Linked DNA regions of Homo sapiens: region 1 is linked to region 2. Evidence: fine-mapped expression QTL. Tissue or cell type: whole blood. Region 2 holds a variant in brackets; the other region holds the start of a gene. All regions are shown on one strand. Distances are between the middles of the regions.

Region 1 (8,422 bases), 230 kb before region 2:
CAGTGTGGGAGGGAGAGATGAAGAGTTTAGGATTGGTAAGTACCAAAGTTTAAGAAGTGTTTGGCCCATTTTGATACTATCAGAAGCTTTTCAGAGATATTTCCACTCTTAATACCACGACACAGACGTGCTAGAAAAAATGGAAAGTGAATACAATGCAGGCACTTTCTCAGTTCCTCCTTCTACCTGGGATTTAAAAGATTGAGATTTTCAAACCAAAGGTGGTGGACAAGTGTTGTGTTAAGAGAAGCCAGGCATCCCATGCACCGAAATCCACCAGTCCCTCTTTCCAAACAACTCCCTAGAGTTCTTCCAGGGAAGGCCTGCAATGACCTTGGCATTGGCTGGACAAGAAGAAGTGTTTTGGGGGGTGTCAGCCATTCTCCACATGGCTGCAAGGCCTGAGAAGACAGTCAAAGCCATAGAAACTGAGCACCCCCATAAACCTTCTTTTTCAGGAAGTCTCTGTTGCTCACTCTTCATTCCTTTTTGGTTTTCCTCGCCTCACCATACTCCTATCTCATTTTCCTTTTTCTGGGAAACAAATCAAAACCAAAAACTATCAAGCATCCTCTATGGTCATCAAAGTGCAACCAGCCATAAGCACCCTCAAACGTGGGGCAATTGAAAGAGATTTGAACCCCTAAGTGATGGGCCTGGGAGGCCCCAGACGTCTTCACTTCTCTGGGGTCTTACCTGGATCTGACGCTGCTTCTTCGCCCTTGGTGTTGCTGAAGCTTTTGTGGGCTCTTCTGTGTAATACTTGTCAATTTTTCGTTTTTCTTTTTTAAGCTTGTGAAAAACTTTTGGATGCAACCTAGTTTTGGTGGCAGAAGGAAATGGTTTCTGTTGGGAAAGGGAAACTAATAAAGGGAGGAGGGGTAGCGATGTCGGGAGACACTTGCCCAGGGCTCAGCCCTGGGCCTCTTTTTGCCAGGGGACAACGGCTGGTTCTGGGCTCTCAGGCTGAAAGGAGTGCTCTCTGGGTGCCAGGATTTCACTGGGGGTGGTGTGGTGAGGAGGGAGGGAAGAAGGGAGGGAGGGAGAGAAGGAGAGATGGGCGCTCGATTTTTAAAGAGACCCCGAAATAATGGCTTCTATGAGAGTCCAGGCATTCAAAGAGGTGTGTTCAAGGATATTAGTGCATTCCTGCCAAGGGGAATGTCTTTTATGGTAAATTAACTCCAGTTAAATTGAATATTTGTTCAAAGGGAAACTGCAGTAGTTAAAGCTGGTATTATCAGTAGAGCTTCCCCACCCCCTCCCCTCAGAATCTGGTGAGGGTGAGAAAGGGGATGCAGTGTAATGTGCAATACAAAGTGATGCTTTCGTGCTGGTGGTTTCTCTGTGTGTGTGTGTCTGTGTGTGTTTAATCTAAGATGAGGTTGCCTAAAATTTCTGAGAGAAATGAGTATTTACTTGGATTAACCCTGTCACCTCATTTCTTTCATCCATAAAGACTGCCAACTTTATCCCAGCTTTTCAAAAAGAAGAAATGACCCGCACAAAGGAAATTAACGTTGTCAGAACGCTGACTCCAGGATTTGCCGGGGCAGGGGCGGGGACCGCAGGGAGGCCGCTCCCAGGGCGTGTGGCCGAAAGGGTTAACTCGCAGGGGTCCGCGCGATCTCCCCGACTTTACCTGTCTTCCTAGTCCCAGCAGCCCCCGTCCCCGGCCTCCCGAACTCCCCACCCCCCAGCGCCTTTCTTCTTTGGGCTCTGGGTTTACGGGGGCTGCAGCTGGTAAACTTGGCAAGCTCGCCTCATTAAGAGCGCTCTTTGAAAACGGACTGTGTTTGAGCATTTCCCTAATGAGGACAGGACGGGGTTAAAAAGTGACCATTTCATGGTTGACTTGAACCTGCCTACTTTTCTTGATGTGTCGTTGTGAAATGCTTGATGTGGATAACTCCCACTTGGTGAAGGAAAAAGTCACTGGTTCCTCCAGGTCCGCTGGGGGAGGGAAGAGGGGACGGTGGACAGAAACCAGAGGGAGTGAGAGGGGCTAAAGTTGAGGGGACAGATCACGAGCTGGGAAGCGGTGGAAAGAGGACCGGGGAATCGGGGGCGAGCCTCGAAACGCCCCAGCAGTACCCGTGGAAGCGGGGCGGCCCCGCCCTGGGGATGGGCCCGCGAGGACCCGGTAGCCCCAGCGCCCCCCGGATCCCCCAGCTAGGTAGACTCGGAGCCCCAGGCGCTCACTTTTCCTCCCTCCATTGTCTGGGAGGCCTTTGCTTCCCCCTCGTCCCCATCCACCCCAAGCAGAAAACTGGATTTGGGGGGCGGTGTGTGTATGTGGGCGGGGGGTGCAGAAAGGGTGCAAGGCGAACCGCCTTCTTCAAAATCCCTGGAATCAAGTTCATTCACTCGGAGCCTGCACGGGCGACGGGGTGGGGGCGGGGCAGCGCCGCGGTGGGGAGCCGGCGCGGGCGCCGAGCGGCTCAGGGCCCGCAGCCTCTGGAGGGCTGCAGCGGCGCGCGCGCGCCCGCCGGCCCGCCCCGCAGCCCCGGGCGCGCCGCGGCCCCGCCCCGCCTGCACCCGGGCGGGTAGGGAGACGCTTTCCGCCGGCGCCCCGGGCCCCGGGGGGTGGGGATTGGGAGCCAGCCAGCGGGGCTGCAGGAGGAGGAGGAGGAGAGCGAAGCCGGGCGCGGGGAGGAGGTGGAGGGAGCAAGAGGCGGCGGCGGCGGCTCGGCCCGGTCCTCCCGCTCAGAGCGAGGCCACGTGCACGGGGCACCCCCGGGGAGGGCGGCAAACCGCGGCGAAGCGCCGCGCGCCGCGACTGCCTCGGGTGCGGGCCCCTGGTGGGCAGACCCGGGACGAACCCGCACCCCCTCCCTATCCGCGAACCCGGGCTCCGGGCGGGGCCGTCGGGGGCTGGGCGCCGCACCCCCCTGGTCCACGCCGGCGCGCCCCAACTACTTGAGCCCAAGTTCGCTCAGGTCCCCGCCTGCTCGGCCTCCCCCTTTTCCCGGCAGCCGCAGGCTCCGCGGACTGAGCCCGCCCCGGGTGCGAGTGTCCGCGCCCCAGCCCCGGCCTGGGGGCGGCCTGGGTGTGAGGGAATTTTCCACTCGTTCCTTTCTCGGGCTCAGACGGTTTCGGTGCTTCTCCCACTCGGATGTTCCCGCGGCTTAAAAGAGTCCGCAGCGAGCACCGAAATACCTCTTCCAGGGCGGGTTTTCGGGGGTGTGTATGTGTGTGCTGGTGTGGGGAGGGCAGCGGAAAGAAGAGCTATTTTGGAAAAAAAAAAAAAGTCATGGTTCTGTAGCACCGGTAGGATACCTTTAACAAATGAGGGAGAGGTGGGGGGAGAGAAGGAGAAGGAGGAGGAGGAGGAAGGTGGGGGGGCGGGGGGTGTGGAGAGGCTGGTGCAAAAGGAATGCGCGTTTGCAGGAGGAGGAGTAAAGCGATGATTGTGTAATTAAATAATAAAACAATCCTTAAGTCTGATTTGGAGAGAGCTCGAGCGGGGTCCAGAGGGTGGAACCGGTGAATTTTTCAACTTCCAAGTTTTGCAACGAAAGAAAGCAAGAGAGGGAGGGAAAAAAAAGAGCCTAGAGCAGAAAAGAGAGGAGTTTGGAGCCGAGCGGGAGAGCGGGATTTATCGTTTGGAATTTTTCAGGAGATCGTTTTGATACCCCTGGGCTCTGGGCAGCGGCGGCAACAGCAGCCTCCACGCTCGGCCGGGTCAGACGCGGGGCGAGGCGGGCGGGCGGGCGGCCGGGCGCCGAAGACCCGGCGCGGGCGGCGGCGGCTGCTGCTGCCGGGGACCACGCGCCGCGAGCCTCTTCCGCCCCAGAGATCAGCGCTCGCGCCCCCTCCCTCACCCCGGCCTCTCCCTTCTCCCCCATCCCACCCCGCCCCCACCCCGGCCCTCTCCCGCGCGCGCCCCGCCACCCGCGCGCACTCGCTCACGCTGCCCCTCGCGCACACACATGGTCGGCTCGCGGCAAAGTTTCGCCTGCGATCACCACTCCGGGATCCTGCCGCAGTGCTTGGGGCTGTAACCTTGAACTTTCCCAGCGCGGTGACACATTCTCCCCGCTCTCCCTCCCGCCCGCCCGCTCGCCCTCCTGCGCCCTCCCGCGCCCCCCTCCCCGCCTTTTTTGAAAAAGCATTTTACCACCAACCACCACCCCAATCCAACCCACACCGAACCTTCGCGCACCCCCTACACCCCAACAACAACAACAACTGCAAAATAGAAAACAAATCCCCAAACCCAGGCGAAAAGCAGCCAACACCGGCGGCGGCGGCGGCCTCGGCAAGCACGGCCAGCGCGCTCGGACTGCAAGAGGGTTAAAAGTGTAGATTGGATTTCACCCCTGGAAATCTAGCACGCCGAGTGAACTTGAATCTTTGGCTATTTAAGGAGGACTGGGTTTGTTGTGAAGTTGCGGTGATCCAGCGCAGAGCCCCGTCCTGATTGATCGCATCGCGGGGCTCAGATGACTGTAAAATGAATAGATGAAATTCTTGCTTCTCGAAGATTTTCTTGGGCATCTCCCGGAAAGTGCGTTTTAAGGCGAAGTCATGATGTATTCTCCCATCTGTCTCACTCAGGTACATGTCTCGGTCGCTTTCTCGAGCTTTCTCTCTGGCCCGAAATGCCTTTGTTTTGTTTTGTTGCGGACAATTAGCGGCTTGAGTTAACCTCCGCACATCCCCGTCCCTTGGAGAAGTGGCCCGGAGTTGCAGCGGGCGTCGCGGGGCGGCGTGGGAGCCGGGAGCGGCCCCTCGCCACGGCCACTGCGAGCGCCCAGCCCCGCGCCCTGGGCACGGAGCGCGGGCGCTGGGCCGGGCAAGGCCGCCGGGGGGTGGGCAGGGCCGGGACCTGTAAGTGCGAGGCCCCGTGCGGCCCCTCAAGTGCCCGTTGTGGTGCGGCATCCCCGCCCGGGGTGCCCGTAGCCCCTCTCAGCAGCTCGCGCGTTGAGGTGGACTCGGGCTTTGGAGGACTTTACGGGGGACTAAGCTTTTAAAAACAGCCAGTGAACTTGGGCGAGGGGACTGTAGCACGAGTCTGTGTGGGCGCCGCTGGACTGCGCTGCAGGCGGTGGGCGGGCGACGAATCGAGTCGGAGGTTGTGGTCCGGGGACCCATTCCTTTGCTTTATTTGGGGATCTGAAACCCTGGTCCATAGTGACCTGCTGCACTTTGGGGTTTCTAGTGACCGCACCACAAAGGCAGTATTTACGTTGACACGAGTTAGTTGGTCTTGGTGATTGTTAAGGAGTTTTTAGAACGTGTTCCTTTTGTGGAAACCTGTTCATTTGACGATATTTGGGCGTAGCTCGTAAGGCATTTTAAGTAATGCTGGTAGAAGTAAGGTCATTTTTTTCGACTTTGAGAATTGTCCTAAGACCTTAGGAATAATGTTATGAAATAAAACACTGGTTTTATACTTTTTAGAAACACGATTTGTATCACTTTAAGCCAGACGGTCAAATAGAAAAGCGGCGAGACCCAACAGACTTACCTGGGGGCAGTTTTCATCGCTGCCCAGGGAACTAACAACTGACAAAGTAACTAAAATATCTTAGCCCAGAACTGTTATTTGAGGCAGTATTTTAAACCTCTAAAGGTATGGGGCAGCTTATTTCAGCTTTTCGGAAGATGTGTCACCATTGGTAATTGATAACTATTTTCTTTGACATTGCCATGAAAACTAGTCATATAAAGAAGTGTCAGCCAGTCTTGGGCGTGTTAAAATTTTAAAAACATCTAATATCACGATGATGCATTTTTATAATGGACAAATAATTAAGATTTCAATTGTATGACAATTAGAAGCCATTGTGATTCAAAAGGACTGAGGCATTCATAAATTGTGAATGAAGATGAAAACAATGATAAGGCTTATTCAGTGATTGGATACAGTCCTGTAGCTTTTTGGCTGACACATTTTTTATTGTTTATATTTTGTTTGGCATCTGAGTATGATTAACTTAGATATGGCTATTTTCAGCAAGTAAACACGCACTTTAATTTAACAAAACTGGAAAAATGAGTTGCTGAGCTATTTGTATTTTAAAAGCCATGAATGATAATAGCCAATAAATATGATGAAACTGTTTCAGGTATAACGAATTGCCTTTACTTGTAAAAGTTACCATTAATATTACCCATCGGCTGGATATATTTTTCTCTTTCTGATAAGCTGTGTTAACTTGATATTATTTTTACACCGTGATCAAATAAAACAAATCAAAGCAAGATTTTCACTTACAGAGTATAGCATCACTTATTCTCACCTGTAAAAGATTGAATAATTGTGCATTTCTCTATATTTCTAACATCAGCTTTTCAGAAACATTGCTAGCAATTACATTGCATTTTTAGTATCCTCCAAATATGTATTGAAAAGTCACTAGTTTTATCTTAATTTGTGTAAGTTAAAGATAATATTGCAGCATTGAGACAGGGAATGTTGGGATCATATACAGCATAATCATTCAGCTATCACATTAGTATTCAGAGATACACACTTAACAACAATAACTTGTGATGACTAATATTCTCTACTATTTTAATAATATAAATCTAGGCTTATGTATTAAAACAAGGCCTACACCAGGGAAGGAATTTCAGCTTAAGAATTTTCACTTCACTAAGCTCCATGTGACTTTGCAGGTAATATAGGTGTTATAAAAGTGAGGCCACATTAATAGTGTCACTTTTGTATCAGATCAGTAGTTTTGTATCACAAGAGCCTAGTAGCTGTAGAAAAACATGTCTCAGGACATGTAAATTGCAAAATAGAGTATCATTCTTAATTGGTTATAAACTTTTAAAAGTATCTCAATTGTTGCAATAAGGTATCTAGGTTTTAGAAAAAAAATCTTAATTTAAAAGGACCTACCATTAAATGTTATGTTTAGCAAAATAGTATGCTACAAAATCAGCATATCAATAACCAATATTTATACACCAGTATAAATCAGATATAAAGGAAAAATTAAGAACTATCATATGATTTAATATATGTTTAAAAATAATGTAAACCATTAATAATATAACTTTCAATTGGCATGATGGCATTAAATATATTTTTCTTTCGTTGCTTTTAAGTTCTTTAGGTACATTTTTTGCATGATTTGTTGTTATATAGCAATGCGCCAAGAGCACCTAGTATTTACTCTTCTACCTCTATGTTGGTCTAAATTATCCATCCCTTTCATGGAAACGGAAGAAAAATAAATATGCCTAGTGGAATTAAGACTCTTTATTTTTATATCTGAAATTGGTAACTTTGTTATTTACTTTGTCAATTTAGTTCAACTAAAGGAAGTTTTAAAAGAGAATTACTGAACATCAATGCATTTTACTAAAAATTCTGAAAGAGCAAAGTTGCCTATTACCTTTGTATACAGTTGTTTGGTTTTAAATCACTTATATGTTTTGCTTTTTTTAAAGAATTTATGATTGCTTAATGCTATTGTAATAATCCACTACTAGTTAGGATATTTGAAAACCTTAATCACCTTTTAAAAAAATATTTTTGTATCAGGACAGTTATTATGTTCCATATTCATGTCACTCATAATCTTTAAGACTCTAGTGTTACTCAGCATTAGGAAACAGTCACACTTGGGAGATGACATTTAGGCATGTTAATACAGAAATATATGCGACTTACAGCAAACCTCAATTTACAGTCATTTTTGGAGGATATGTCCCCTTGTCAAATAAGTGCTTCACTTGAATTCACATAATAGTGAAACCCTGAACGATATCAATAAGGCAAACTGGCAGCCTGAGAAAGTTTGCTACTTTTATTTCTCAAAAAAAAGAGCATGTTTTAAAACAATATTGGCAGCATTGACAGCAAAGTCAAAGGAACGTTTAAAAACTGTGTGCATTTGCTAAGAATTTTCAAATTCAACCTTCAAATTTGAATTTTGGTTGTTTAAAATAACTCATTAAAATTTTGAGCTTTCTTGTGTGATAGATTATATTTATAATCAAATATTGAAACTCAAATTTAATCAAAACTGTGTTTGATGTCTTTATAAGAAAATGAAATGTCACTGAACATAGTACTTAAGGTGTAAGTACTTACGTGTTACCACATGGCTTAATATTTATAAAATAATATTGCATTTTAAAAAGCATGGCAAGGGTAAAATGAGTGAGACAGAGCCCACCCACTCCACCTCATGTGCTCTTTACATTCTCAAGGTTTTAGTTTTGTGAGTGCATATATGTGTGTTTTTTAGTCATATCAATAAATCGTAGTAAAAGATTATAGGAAGTGAGTTTCCAAAGCACATTTAAGTCCACATTTCCTTGAGCAGGCTTTCCTTTTGCATATATTCCTAAAGGGGATAAACAAAGTTTTTGTAGTTACAGTGAAAGCTAAAAGCATGGCATCAGAAAGTGTATGGAGATAGGGAGGTCTTATCATGGGATGTGGTTGCTGTGAGCA
Region 2 (8,422 bases):
GTCCTCAGCATGGCTATCGTCTGGAAGTTTTGCCTTTGTGCTGTTGCTACAACCTGAAGCATGCTTAAGCGGTCTACATTCCTTTCCACATCAACTGCTATATCTTCCCTGTCTACCCTTAGCTGTTCTGCAATGACATAATTTGGTGAGTTTTTCAATAAGTAAATGCCATAAAGTTAGGTTTTCTTCCACAGTGCTACCTAGAAGAAATACAGTACTTCAGAGGTAGTCTTACCAATAACAAAATGAAGCAGGACCATCACCAGTAATGCATCTTAAGCTCTAAATAATTCATTTGCTTCTTCCCTTTTGGGGGGAGCCATGTCATACATTTGGTCAAAATAGCAAGAAAATAGTATCCATGATATCAAACATTTTATTTTTGGAATTTTGATTTAGCTCTTATGTATTCATTTTATAATGAACTATCTCATTATATGCATAGTAATAGTCATTAGGATGAGCTGTACTTTGTGTTAAGGTACTATCAAATTCTTTTGTGTTTTTTTCTGCTTGATTTTTTTGCAAAGTAATTATATCTTTTCTTTTTTAAATGGTTATATCTACTTTATATTTTCTAAAGATGTGCTTTCAACTTTCAGCTATGCTCATCTTCTCTTTGCCTAAACAAATGTGATTTGGTAATGAAAAATTTGATTAAAACAAAGGAAATGCACACTTATAAAGATATATTGCTGAAGTAGCTGAATTTGAGCTTGAATATTTTGAAATCCTTTCAGTTATATTCTCATTTCTTTTATTGGAATGCAGATAGTTGGAATGAACATAAGATTATCCATATAGTAATTCTCACTATGAATTAAAACTATTAAGCATTTTACATGTAACTAATTTGTTTTTGTGTGTTTATTTTATCCATACATGTGATTATTGATTTTTATATAGAGTTAGATGTATAAAAAGCACTATTACATTTTTACCTGAGTAAGTATGCAATTTTAGACATTGCATTTTTGAAATTAAATAATCTGTATTACTTTAATTAAATATATTTATTTACATTGTTATCTCAGTCATTGAATTAGTTTTATCAAGTTTTTTTTTTTAACAGGACTACCAAAAATAGCTCTAAAAAATGTCTGTGCCTTATAGTTCTGAACTTAAATTGGCAATAAGAGACTTGTAAAACTCATATATGGGGTCTGCATAGTGTTAATGTTTGAGATTTATTTTCCCCCAAAGGTTCATAAACAGTATTGACAAATATATTGCACTCTGCAATTTTGATATGGTCATAATGTAGGATGGGCGGTTTGAAAGATTTAAATAAACATTTAAATTAAATTTGGTAGGCATTCTGCAGCAAGAGTCCTGTTAGTTACTAGCATCAATTTATTTTTATTGAACATTTTCCAAAGAATAATGACATATGTCTCTTCTAAAGAACTGAGTAAGAGAGCTATTGCAAAATAAACCCTGAGTTTTCTGCCATTAGTTGGTAGACTTGTCCATGTAAGGAGCCACATCTATTTTCAATCATTAAAATATACTTTATATCCCTAAAGCATGCAATCTCCAAATGACTTTCTTGAGCTCACTTAATTTGGCACTCTTGTTAATTTTGCAAAGCAATTTGCTGCTTGTTGACATTGTATTTTACTGTCAAGGATTATCTGCTTTACCTAGTCCTTTTGCTTTTGGTACATGCTTCTTACTTCAAGTTAAAAATAATGTATAACCATTTTTGTAATTTATTTTATTTGTTAAGAAATAGCACCAGCTATGCTCAGACTCTATAAAGATAGATGTGACTAGGTCGTTTTCTCTGTGAAGTTCACCTTTCAGTTAGTAAGATAATCCCAGATAGAGATATTTATGAAGTAATAAATGCTGTAACAGGACCATGTACAAAGTGCAGTGGAAACACAGTTGAGGGTAAAATAAGTTTCATGATTCATTATGTAACATTGTTCCCAATCAATGGTGCAAAGCACAAAAATAATTGTTGAAGATGTGTGTGGGAAGATAAATATGTGAAAACAGTTAAGCTGCTTAGTAAAAGTTTCAATAACAAGTATTCTTAAGAGTTACGATTTTTCATCAGATTTTGAGGACGTGTCTTTTTAGTTTGAATGTGATTATTCCTGCTTAATCAATTTTTGTTAATGCTAAGTAGATCTAATTTTAAATTCAGAGATACCTATTTTCTTTTTATAGGGGATCAAATCACAACATATTCATGAGTATATGTAATCTTGGGTGACAGCTTTTGAAAATATATAGCTGGGTGTGATTTGAAACAATTAATTGATTTGTTTGTCTAAAAAGGTATTGAGCATCTTCCATGTGCTAGGTACTTTACTAGAGACGGACTTTGCTGTCATTGAGTTTGTAGTCTAATTATAAAATCCCTTGAGCACAAATGGTCGTTGTGATATTGTTTTGAAATGTTAACTCAGAAATATGTATGTGTAGCAACAAGCAACATTTTGTATCGAGGTATCACCAGAGTAAAAACAGTATGTATCAAGTTTTAAAAAAAATTCAGAATTGTTCCTTTAGGTTGATATTCTGTAAAGGTTTTTGTACTTTTGGAATTCAAATATGAACAAATGAGCATATCTAGATTGATAGCTACAACAATAGTGCTATCTCACTTCATGGTTTCAAAAGTAAAGCAAAGGATGTTCAGTGAAATTTAAAACCTCGAAAGTATGTTTCCATGCTAGGCCATGACTAATATGAGTACTGAATTGTCAGTTTGATGTTTTCTTGGTTCATGATTATTTATGCAGCTGTTACTTAACTGACATTCATTCGGATTTGAGTGTTGGAACAGGCAATACATTAGATTAAGTGTACCCAAAATGTGTGCTGTAGAGTTGTTTCATGATATGTAGATCTGATTTTTTTTATCCTCCATATGATACTTTTTAAAGGGAGATTATGCTAGTAGCAATTAGAGAATTGTTTTCCAGTCTTTTTTTTTTTTTTTTAACAGCCTGTAATTCAGCATAGGCGAAAGTTGAACTGATGAGAGTAAGGCTGGAATCTTATCATTTACTGCCTCCAACACCCCCAACCCCCAACCCGCCATCTATCACTCCAAACTCCTCAAGTGCAGAGCAGCTCAAATGTGGTATCATTACTGATGGGGAGGAGCAGGAAATGCTCAGGCTTCTGTTGCAAGCCAATGTAGGGAACCATGAATTGGAAGGAAAAGCTGTGGCTCTCTCTAAAAGTAAGTTAAAGAGGGTTAGAATAAGAAAACTGCTGGAGAGCTATAGAACTAATCAGTGCAAGCAGAGACCTTTGTGGCCTCCTGTAAATGTTTTTCCTCACGATGGGTATTCTGTAGAGAACAAAAAAAGCTGTGTTCCATTTTGGTTCTATGATTCTTATTTGTTCGGTCTTTACTAAAAAACTCTGATTAAGGTATGTTTGATAATTGGGCATTTCAAATTGTATGTTATGCATGGGCCTACCTTAAACATGTAGTTTTTTTTCCTGTTGTAAGGAGAAAAGAAATATCTTTCACCGTACTTTTCAATTGTATTCAACCCAATAGGCAGGTAAGAAATTGAAACCCATCTGACCACTGAATTGCTTGTGAATTAAAGGTAAAATAAGATTAGAATGTAACTGGCAAAGTATATTGGTACCAACAGATTGCTGCTTTTCTTTTTCTTTTTTTTCCTGTACAAAAAAGAATGATATTGCATTTATATTGATTAATGTAAAATATTTTAGAATATCCTCAATCGGTTAGAATTCAATAATTGTTTATATATCTTACTCTGGATTTTTCTGCCTCACTTTAGTCTTAATTTTCATTTAAAAAATAGACTATAGAGTTTAGATAGGTGTAACATGTATAATTTGGCACATTTATCTCATATTAGACTGTAATTTTGAAAATAGGGATAGCAATAATTTGATGCATCTGGAATTTATATTTCTCATATTGTTGTAGATTTTAACATTGTATTTTTTTCTTTTTTCTTCCCTCCCTGCTGCCTCTCTCCTCTCAACAGTCCTGGTACCTGGGCTAGCTTGGTTCCTTTCCAAGTGTCAAATAGGACACCCATCTTACCGGCCAATGTCCAAAATTACGGTTTGAACATAATTGGAGAACCTTTCCTTCAAGCAGAAACAAGCAACTGAGGGAAAAAGAAACACAACAATAGTTTAAGAAATTTTTTTTTTAAATAAAAAAAAAGGAAAAGAGGAAGACTGGACAAAACAACACAAAGGCAGAAAGGAAAGAAACTGAAGAAAGAAGATAATAGACCAGCAATTGCAGCACTTACAATCACTAATTCCCTTAAGGTTGAAACTGTAATGACATAAAAAGGGTCGATGATATTTCACTGATGGTAGATCGCAGCCCCTGCAACGTAGCCTTTGTTACATGAAGTCCGCTGGGAAATAGATGTTCTGTCTCTATGACAATATATTTTAACTGACTTTCTAGATGCCTTAATATTTGCATGATAAGCTAGTTTTATTGGTTTAGTATTCTTGTTGTTTACGCATGGAATCACTATTCCTGGTTATCTCACCAACGAAGGCTAGGAGGCGGCGTCAGAG[G/A]TGCTGGGTGACAGAGCCATGAGCCAGCCATTTTATAAGCACTCTGATTTCTAAAAGTTAAAAAAAATATATGAAATCTCTGTAGCCTTTAGTTATCAGTACAGATTTATTAAATTTCGGCCCTTAACCCAGCCTTTTCCAGTGTGTAACCCAGTTTGAAATCTTAAAAAAAGAAAAAATGAAAAAAAAAGGAAAAAAAGAAAAAAGGAAAAAAACAGTTTGAACACAAAGGCTCTATGGAAGAAATGCCTCTATGTAGGTGAAGTGTTCTCTCTGCATGCAACAGTAAAAATTAATATAATATTTTCCCCACAAAAGAAACACTTAACAGAGGCAAGTGCAATTTATAAATTTATATCTAAAGGGGAATCATGATTATAAGTCCTTCAGCCCTTGGACTCTAAATTGAGGGGATTAAAAAGAATTTAAAATAATTTTGAACGAATTTATTTTCCCCTCAGTTTTTGAGGGCATTAAAAAGGCATTAAATCAAGACAAATCATGTGCTTGAGAAAAATAAAATTAATGAAAACACAGCACTTATGTTGGTTTAGCTGCAGCCTCCTTGGAGGTAGAATTTATTTATTTAAAATTACTGGTTGCATCAAGAACCCATAGGGTGTACAAAAGGTTCTATAAAATCTGCATTATAGAGACAAAGAGGCAGGCAAATCCATGTCACAAGGGTAAAGCTTACAGTTTACAAACTGGGAACGCCAGGGTGTAGGATATAAAAACGCACTCTTGAGAAAACAAATGTAATCAGGGTGCTGAAAACTTGCATGGTGCTTTCAGACATTAGCCTTGTTCAACAAATTTCTTGTATTGACAGATCCATAGTGTGCATGGGCAGACACATTTTGCCTCTATGTCTCTTAAAATTTTAATTAAAAATACTCTTTCCAGTAATCCTAATTTGCACGAAGATATAATGTCCACATTACGTGCCTTGCCTTGAAATCTAAAAAACAAAAAACAAAAAAAAAAAAACAAAAAAATACAACAAAGTGACATCACTACACTTGTTTTGCTGCATTTATTATCATTTTAAATCTTTACCATTTTTATGACAAAATATTTTGTACTCCAGACGAAGAAAAATGTGTGACATCATGGATTTTTTAGACAGTTATACCTTTATCTCACATTTATAAAGCATATCATGGCTGTGTATAGTTGCCGCTTAAAAATTGTAATCGACCAGCAATATTTTCAGTATTTTGGTGTTTTTTTCTATTAACCTTTCATGTTTTTCATCTTCCAATTAATATTTGGGGGGGAGGGGTTTCAAATTTATACGAATTATGCAATACCAAGTTTTGCCTATGTAGGTAGTGCTTTTAGCTGTATTGGTTATTATAGGTAAGTACACAGATTTAAAAAAAAAATAATGTATGCTTTTTTGTTTGTTTGTTTGTTTTAATTGACCAAAGTGGGTACTGCTATTTTTGCAGTGTGATGAGGTCCTTTTGTGTACTGAGAGATGGACAGGGGATTTTTTTTAATATACATATATATATATTCTGGGGTGGGTGGGAGGATTTTTAACACTTTGCAGTGTAGCTGTGAAGCAGTGCACCCTGAGATGGGCCTGGGCTGCAAAGCGACTGTTCTGCCTACTGTGACAAACTTCAACTTACACAGGTTCCCCTCTCTAACTTCCCACCTGGGTTGCAAGCTGAACTCATTACTGGTTTTCATAACAACACAATAGTAAGAACAAGCAAACACAACAAATTCTCCTGGAGGCAGACTTGGCTTAAAAAGGCAGACTTGGCTTGGTGATAGTTTTTCTTGAAAGTTCCAGATCCACAGTGGAGAGTGAGCCTGTCTCATATTTGGCAAAAATATTTGTTGAAATGTCCACATAGGGGATGTTGGATGTTTAACACTTTTGAGAGTTTAACACATGAATATTCTTTCTCCTAGAAAACACATTAGACCTGTTGGAGGGAGTCTCCCGTATTCCTTTTCTGCCACTTTTCGTCCCCATTTCATTTCATTAATGATAGGATATGATTTACCTGTGACTTACTACTTCAAATGGATGGCAGTGCACTTGGATTTTTTTTTAATATCCAGAAGATTGAACAGAGGGTTGCTATTGTTGAATGTATTTGGACTGATAGATTAAAATCAAAGTTCAATTTTTAAGGAACAAAAAAGTAAATCCTGTTTTCATTTTATCTCCCCTTTTAAAACTGAGAACCAGAGCAGAAGGGAAATATAGAATTTTAAGCAATTAATCTTCCTGTGGATGAATTAAACCCATTAGATGCTGATGGGATTTTTTTAAGGAATGGTACCTTAACTATATATTTGATTTCGTTTCCCCTGAGGGCTAGAGGCTGAATGGAGGCTGGTTTTATTTTGCCTTTCCCTCACCGCCCAGTCCCATTGAGTGTATTCATTACTAGAAGGAAAATCTTTCAGAATTGGTGACACATGGTAGGCTGTCTTAAGGAGTCCCCTGGCCCCCTTCCCCTAGGCCATGGCCTAATAAAATAAACTGTCAATTGTTCTCACAGCATATCATTTAATAATGAATACTTTAGAACAATGCTTATGGGCTGGAGAATTGTATTTGATTAGCCCATTCAGTTTGATAGCCCAAATGCTGAACAGCACAGCGGGATCCTAGCAGTGCAAGTTCAAAAGTAAGTCCAATCATTTCTGTGATACTCGCCCTGGTAGCAAACAGATCATCTCAGCCAAGCTCTTCATGTATCTTTGACCTATTAGGTGAACAAATGAACCTCACAGGACACACAGTATTTTTTAAAGGCAGACTCGCTCTCTTTTTTGCCAGTGAGCAGTTCTAGCTAACCAAGTTACACACTGTGGGTATTCCTGCCTGCCTCTTGAATACAAAGGCCTAGTTCAAGTGTTGCTTTTTTTATTTCAAATCAATTTTTTCTTCTTTCCTTTTTGAGATAAAACTATTAAAAGTACTACTATATATATAAAATCTCAAATCAACTTTTCGGCCTCCTCCTCGTGTACCAGGAAGTATATTCTGACGAAGGGCCCCACTTTTGCAGGTCTTGCACGCCCCTCCCTTACCCAGAACTGCAGAGCTTCAGGATGGCGAAGGTCACCCAAGGGCATGAGTAGGGAGTGGTGTCTCCAACCATCAGTTCCGTGGCACTGTTCAGCCTTTGTGTGCTGCCCTGCCACCCACCACTCACAGTGCCTCTGAAGCGTGTTACCCCTGGAGTGACGTGAGCATTTGAGGCTTGTCTAAGGAAAAAAATAAAAGGCAGTGAAGGAGACTGTACATAAAGACATGGCAAAAATCTTAATTATAGCAATATAGTTATCGGGTAATGTTCGGGTGGGCAGCTCCATTAAAAAATATGTGAATGAATCTGTGAAGCTGCAAGTAGCGAGAAGAGCGAAAGGTCTTCTTAATGAACCGCCTACCTTGTAGACAGTAATTTGTACACTGTATAGTTTTGTTAAGAATTTTTTTTAAATTAAAATTCCCATGTTTGTAAAGCTAACTTTTTAACAATTATAATGGAACTATATGTTGTTTCCATTTTTAAAGTAAACAAGAATATTCCTTGTTTAGAGACTGGACTTGAGTTAAAACTCTCCAGTCTCTTAAGTTATGTATTAAAAAGAAAATCTGTCCATGTTAGGAGTTATTTCACAGATTCCTGTGCTTGAAAAGCATAGGATACTAATCCTTTAAAAAAGTGTAAATGGAGAAAAGTTATATTTTATGAAGGTTATTTTGTTGTATTTAGTATTGGAAAAGTTGGTTTCCAGAGCATTTCAGAATGTCGAAGCACCACTGTCTTTTTATTAGTATATACGGCCTTTAGCAAAAGTTTTTGTGATTGTTACGTGATGGTATTTAAGGTTA

Evidence for each region. PIP is the estimated chance that this variant, and not a neighbour inherited with it, causes the effect.
Region 1: NFIB starts here. The variant in region 2 is fine-mapped to the expression of NFIB in whole blood (INTERVAL, PIP 0.98).

What each region holds. Positions count from the first base shown.
Region 1 is chr9:14,309,620-14,318,041 of GRCh38, reverse strand. NFIB (nuclear factor I B) reads left to right here and starts at 3,901. Exons shown (of 11, transcript NM_001190737.2): 1 at 3,901-4,560. The coding sequence starts at 4,531. NFIB-AS1 (NFIB antisense RNA 1) reads right to left here and starts at 955. Exons shown (of 2, transcript NR_186536.1): 1 at 697-955. RefSeq lists a silencer at 4,198-4,492.
Region 2 is chr9:14,083,900-14,092,321 of GRCh38, reverse strand. It overlaps NFIB (nuclear factor I B), which reads left to right. Exons shown (of 11, transcript NM_001190737.2): 11 at 3,996-8,422. The coding sequence ends at 4,013. Among named protein-coding and RNA genes, the nearest start is that of LINC00583, 160 kb to the right of the region's middle. The variant G/A (reference allele first, on the strand shown) is at 4,552.